Homo sapiens: one gene and its partner. The protein of the gene in region 1 purifies or fractionates together with the protein of each later gene. This does not show direct contact. Each region holds a gene or a part of one and is shown in the gene's direction. Other genes may lie near its edges.

Region 1 (3,500 bases):
TGAGGGGCGCCAGATATAGCCAGCTCAATGGGTGATGAGTGACGCAGCCCTGCTGGGAGGCTAGGGCCTGAGGTAGGCAGGCGGCTGTAATTAGAGCCGCCAGTGATTCAGGCATTCCCCGAATAGGAGGGAAAAAAACAGAAGCTGCTGAATCCCCACAGCAGCTGGGGCCAGCGAGAAGTCTGGAGCCAGCAGACACCCACCCTGGGGCTAAGACAAACAAATGTCTTGACTTGAGGAAGAGGGTCGGGCCAGGGATCTGGGGGTCCTGTCCTCCCCACCCAACGGTGTCCTTGTTCCAAACCCAAGGTGGGAGCGAGTAAGAAGTCCAAACTGAGAAGAGCGTTATTGAGCTTTGTTGAGTATGGCCTATGCGGCCTGTAGCTGGCTGTCAACTGCGTCAGGGGTGGGTTTGTCAGCCCCCTGTACACGTGGGCACATGCCTACCCCTTAGAGGCAGGAAGCCAAGAGAGGAGGGGTGATGCAACTTGCCCAAAAACACACTGGGGGTCCCTCTGACAGCAAAGTTCACACTCTTTCCAGCCTCCCTTTGGAGGGAATACAATGGGATGGTGTCCTACTGGCTCGCAAAGCAGAGGGGTGGTGGCTGGGGCTGCAGGGAAGGCATGGAGGTGGGAGAGGTGAGGTGTGAGCAAGATGCTCCCAGCGGACTTGAGTGAACCTGAGATTGCCAGGGAAGGAGGTCAGGTAAAGATGAGGGGATAAAGTGCCAGGGTGAGGGGCTGCACAATCAGGGAGGCCTCCTGGAGGGGAGTGGGTGTGGAGCAGAGCCAGGAAAGGGCAGAAGCCACTGGGAGAGGACTGTGTCATCAGGAGGGAGTGAGGAACGGGGAGCCAATGCCAGGAGGTCGGGGGGAGAGAGAGAGGATGTGTCATAGAAGATGCAAGAGGGAGAAGGATGGGCTGCTTTTCTTTAATTGGCAAAGAGACCCCAAGTGGGATAGCACAGGCCCTGAGCCCCAACCAAGGGGAGTTCACCAGGCCCAAGCCCCCACCATATCCAGCTGAGCAACCCCTCTCTCCCTCCCAGGTATGAGGATGAGATCTCCAAGCGCACAGACATGGAGTTCACCTTTGTTCAGCTGAAGAAGGTAGCCTGCCCAGCCTGCCCCAGGGGCTCCTTCCTCATGGGCCCTGGGCCCTCTTTCCCTCCAGATATCCTACTCTCCTTTATGCCCAATCAAAGCCCTCAGAGGCTTAAGTCCCAGGACCAACAGACAGACAGGGAGATACCCCCATCCCCATCCAGCTCCTTTTTCGAGGCTCTGAGCCAGATCTCCTCTGGAATCACCCCCACTCTCACCCAGGAGGCAGCCCCCCAGCCCACTCCTGCCCTGGGACCCTCCATTCCCTCTCCCACCACTCACCACTGCTGCCAACCCCAGGACCTGGATGCAGAGTGTCTTCATCGGACTGAACTGGAAACCAAGTTAAAAAGCCTGGAGAGCTTCGTGGAGTTGATGAAAACCATCTATGAGCAGGTGAGTGAGATGGGGCCAGTGTCTTGCCAAGCCCAGAGCTGGCTGGTCCATGGGTAAAGGACACAGGGGAAGCACAGCCATCCAGTGGGGCATGGAACCTCCAACAGTCACTTACAATTTCCAGCCCCAGAATAATAATTTCCTAAACCCCTTCCTGTGATGGTGTCAATAACCCTGCATGACCCCTGGACATTCATCTCATGGAACATGGGCTGGTTCCCCAAAGGCCACTCTTTCTGGAAGAACTATACCTTTGTGTGCTAGAGTACTGAGGGCATGCTGGGGACCAGGTGCCTCGGACAAGGGTCAGGAGGCTGGCCTCAGTGGCATGGAACCCAGGGGTCTGGAACGAGCATGCTGATTGAACTGATCTCTCCCTAATTCCTGCAGCCTAAACCACAGCACCCACAGTGCTAGTTCTGATAGGCCTGCCTTTCCGTTTTCCCCATTTTTGGCGAAGACAGAGGAAACATTCGCATTTGTTTCCTAAGTCCTCAGTGGGGCCCAGTGTACAAGGGCCCATAACAGCATGGCATGCATCAACACAGCCATTAGATGGGCACTGCCGCTGGCTTCTGGACACCACTCCTCCATGCCAGCTGCTGACTCCTAGGCACCCTTCAGGATATGTGTCCTCCTCTCCACACCACTTGTTTCAAGGGTGAGGAGGTTCAGGGGTGACACTCCTGAGCTAAAGTCCCTTCCACAGAGGTCTGCAGTTCAGCTAGGAGCAGGCAGCACCACTGTTGGAGATAACAGGGCTTGCCCGCCTAAGTGCTGCACACTGCTGGTGCCAAGCTATGGCAGTGCAGCCAAGGTCAAGGCTGAGATCAAAGTCACCACCACAACTTACAGATTCTGCTAAAATGGCCCTATGATCTGCTGACCACAGCTTCATGGCTGCATCCTGTGGAAAGGAAGACCGGGCCTCATGGCCCTGTCATGGGTCACAGTCCTTTCCAGCAGTCCCAGCTGCCAGCTGGGGCCTCCGTGGAACTGAGTCTTGTTTGTGGCCACGAGAGGTAGCATAGCAGAGAGAACAGCAAACCCTTGGGAGCAGCAGGAAGGCAGCCCTCCTAGGCAGTCCGCTCTCCCCACAGCCCTGAAAAGCTTCCTGGCCCTAACAAATCCCCCCACAGCCAGGCCAAGTGCTATGGGGCTGACCAGGGCACCATGCCCACTGGCTGGGTGGGAACTGGGCTAGGGGCTTCTCTGCCCAAACTCACTGTGGGCTGGTGCAGCCCAGGCTGGCATCAGCAGGGCCATCTCCTGTCTCCACTGGGCTGGATCTCTGCCACCCTTAGGCCTCCACCCACTCATACTGCCTCTGAGAGGCTGAGTCCATGGGTGAGTGCAGATTCTGCCGAGCCTAGATGGAGTGCAGATTCTGAAAACCGAGCCCAGTGTTTCTCTACCTGCTCACTGATGTCTCAGCAAGCTCAGAGCTCAAGCTCTAAGCCATGATGCAGGCCCTGCAGCTGTAGAGACATAACTGGAAGAAGGCTGGGCATAACCAGTGATATTCCTGAGCACCCCACAAGACTTCTTGGCCCCTGCCCCAGTAGCCAGGCCTGTGGGTTCCCTTTGGATTTTGCAGTCCTTGGGCCCCAATCCCAACTTGGCCTTGTTTTTTTTTTTTACTATTTCTGTAACTTTAGGCAAGTTTTTTCTCCTCTCTGTGCCTTAGTGTCCTTATCTGTAGCATGGAGAGAGTAACAGGACCAGCCTCATAGGGCTGTGAGGAGGACTCAGCCCACTCATTCATTTAACAAATGTTTATTGCATGCCTACTAAGTGCCAGGCACTGATACCACAGCCTGGGCAAGGTCCCTTCTCTCAAGGAGGGCATGACTTAGCTGAGACAAGTCATAAGCAAGTCAGCAAATATCTGGACAAGATCGCTTCGCAGGGTGACAGATTCTGGGATGCAAAGAAACCGGGTGCTGCGCTGGAGCCGGAAGGAGGGAAGAGCCTCAGAGCCCATGAGCGGGGCCTCTC
Region 2 (3,500 bases), on another chromosome or scaffold:
CCAAACATGAGGAGTGACAAGTGTTATAGTTTGAAGTAGGCATAATTAAGCATGACAAGAAAATCAAAAACATAAAATACAAATCTGAATGCATAAAAATTAAAACTTTATATTACAAGAAAGCAGAGTGGGGAACACCGTTAAGTTAAAATACAAGTGATGAACTGGAGAAAAATAATTATAGCCTATGTGCAAAGGGTTGATAGACATGTGCTAAGGTGTTTTAGAGCTTGTGCTCTAGAGTAACACTGCCTGACCTACCAATCACAAGATGTGACATTGAAAAAGTCATGTAACTATTCTGTGCCTCAGTTTCCTCACTTTAAAAGATGGTAATAAGACTCCCTGTTTCATGGTGTTATTATTGGGCATTTAACCCATATGTAAAAGCATCTAGTACCGTGTTTGGCATGTAATAGTAATGATAATAACTGCTAAAATATACCAGGGGTTAATATGTATTATACACTGTGCAAGCCTTTTAAATACATTGTCTCATTTAATGCTCACAGCAACCCTTCCAATGAGGAAGGTGCTGTTATTCTCATTTTACAGATGGGTACTCCGAGATTTAGAGAGGTTATGTAACTTGACCAACAGCTAGTAAGTCATGGAGGTGGGATTTGAGCAAAGATGTGATTCCAGACCCATCCTCTTAACATTTACACCATGCTGTTGTGACTCTTAAGACAACTTAGTTCCCTTTTCCTTGAGTCTTGGGAGTATTTAATCTTGAGAGTTAATTGGACTTTTAACACCCTCTCAGTAGGTATATGATATAAGCTCTTCAAATGAATCTGGACACTAGTATATCCATGAAGTTGCCATCTCATGTATATTTTTACAGAACATAGCCTTTCTTTGATGCTTGACCAAAGATTACTGGAACAGGATTCTAAGTAGGCTTTTAACACTGTATGTTTGATTCTTGAACTGACTTCGATGGTGTGCCCCACTGTTTGAGCCCAAGGTTACTTTATGGGATAGTGTAGACTGTTATTTTCAGTTCTTCCTTTGGCAGTTAGGATCAGTTCCCATCTCATCAGTTTCTCCTTTTACCTAGGACCAATTATTACTCCCATTAACTGGCCTCAGACTTTTCCTAGTAGTCTGCAAACTCTGCAGGCAGCATTTAAATCCTTTTAGCTTTCCACACCAAGCACAGTGCCTGAATTCTTACCTTGAATGTTGTAGGAGTTTAACAAATGGCTTATTAATTTAATTAATTATAAATGAGACTTCTAGATAACTTGTGTCTTATGAGCTTCTAATTGTTTCTTCTGCAGCAGTAACTGGAAAATGGAATTTCCCAAAAGCAATGCTTTATATTAGTTAATGTGTTAGAGAGGGACTTTGTCATGATGATATAAAATTTTGATTAAATGAAAAGCAGTTTATTTCTCTTGTACAAGTGACCCACATAAAGTACCATTTATGAAATGGAAAAACAATTGGGAAGAAAAATTTTCTCAAAGTATTATAACCAAGGCACAGTATAGTTTTAAAATGATTTATACTTTATATATAGGGCTTGCTCAGTTAATGTATCAAGTTATTAGGCATTAAGAAATGTTGAGTGAGGAATGAGGTTATGAAATAGATATGCAAACATGGATGTAGAAAGAAACTGTATAGTTTGAATAAGTTAATGCTGCTCTGCCAAACCTAATGTTCTCTTTTTGCCCTTTATTCACTTAGCAACTGGGCCATTTCCCCTAGTATATTAATTATGGCCTACGAGTGAGTGAAAATTTTTGAGCTCCTATGTTAAATCATTTTAGAACATTGGGAGTGGGAGTTAGCAAATCGTTGCTTAAGGGAACCAAATAATAAGCTAGTAAAGGTAAATGCAACTTACTAAAGGGCCCAACATAAAAACAAATAGCTTATGCAGTGGCATATCTTAATGCAGTGTTTGATCTTTATGTACCCTGCTGCCTCAGATTCTAGGTCTAGTTCAAATGGCCACTGCAAACCCATCTGCCTTTATGAAAAATGCCCTTCCTTCAGTAAAACATTTTGAGTATGTTATTCACAACTTGAACAATCCTACATCCAGGCCTGAAGAAAGTGGTAGTATGGACGGGTGTGCGCCCTTGTCTTGTTTGGTGATTCTGAACTTCAATCTTGTAAGGAGGGAAAGAAAGAGGGGTTGGAAATGAGGGTGGAAATGAGGGTTGGAGAGCACTGGCTTTGGGATTTAATCAACAGCATCTAGCTTCAGTTCACCCAAATGGTACTCCATAAATCAAACTTATTTTTATATATTTTTTATTTTTTTATCTTTAGTTATTATGAACACATAGTGCATATTTATGGGGTGTATGTGATATTTTGATACAAGGCATACAATGCGTAATGATCAGATCAGGGTAATTGGGCTATCAATCACCTCAAGCATTTATCATTTCTTTGTGTTAAGAACATTCCCGTTCCACATTTTTAGGTATTTTGAAATATATAATACATTACCGTTAATTATAGTTGCCCTATTGTGCTACCGAACACTAGGTCTTATTTTTTCTATATAACTAATGCAGTTTTAAATAACTATATTTTCATACCCAATAACCATTCACTTTTTATCCCTCCTCCCCGCTACCATTCTCAATCTCTGGTAACCATCATTCTACTCTCTACCTCCATGAAATCTACTTATTTTTACCTCCCACATATGAGTGAGAACATGTGATATTTGTCTTACTGTTCCTGGCATATTTCATTTAACATAATGACCTCCAATTCCATCCATGTTGCTACAAATGACAAAATTTCATTCTTTTTATGGCTAAATAATATCCCATTGTGTATATATACCTTGTTTTCTTTATCCATTCATCCCTTGATCAACACTTAGGTTGATTCCCTATCTCGGCTATTGTGGATAGTGCTGCAGTAAACATGCGAATGCAGATTTCTCTTTAACATACTGATTTCCTTCCTTTTGGGTATATGCTCCGCAGCAGCATTGCTAGATTATATGATAGATTTTTAGTTTTTTGAGGAACCTCCAAAGTGTTCTCCATAGTGACTGTATTAATTTACTTTCCCACCAACACTATACAAGTGTTCCCCTTTCTCCATATCCTTGCCAGCATTTGTTATTGCCTGTCTTTTTGATAAAACCATTTTAACTGAGGTAAAATGGTATCTTGTGGTTTTGGTTCGCATTTCTCTGGTGATTAGTAATGATTAGTGATCATTTTTTCGTATAATTGCTGGCCATTTGTATGACTTGTTTTGAGAAATGTCTCTTTTTGATCTTTTGCCTATTTTTTAATTAGATCATTTGGGTTTTTTTCCTACTGAGTTGTTTGAACTTCTTATATATTCTGATTGTTAATCCCCTTTCAGATGGGTAGTTTGCAAATATTTTCTCCCATTCTGTGGGTTGTCTCTTCATTTTGTTGATTGCTTCCTTTTCTGTGCAGAAGCTTTTTAGCTTGACATGATCCCATTTGTCCATTTTTGCTTTGTCTATCTGTGCTTTTGAGGTCTTA

What was found.
Region 2: the proteins of KRT80 (region 1) and IFT57 purify together in Homo sapiens (affinity purification with mass spectrometry; one large-scale study listed by BioGRID and IntAct). This does not show direct contact.

The regions. Positions count from the first base shown.
Region 1 is NC_000012.12:52,178,515-52,182,014, reverse strand, and holds part of KRT80 (keratin, type II cytoskeletal 80), read left to right. Parts: intron 1-1,051; coding exon 1,052-1,112; coding exon of another isoform or gene 1,113-1,406; coding exon 1,407-1,502; intron 1,503-3,500.
Region 2 is NC_000003.12:108,194,925-108,198,424, reverse strand, and holds part of IFT57 (intraflagellar transport protein 57 homolog), read left to right. Parts: intron 1-3,500. UniProt on the Homo sapiens protein: Required for the formation of cilia. Plays an indirect role in sonic hedgehog signaling, cilia being required for all activity of the hedgehog pathway.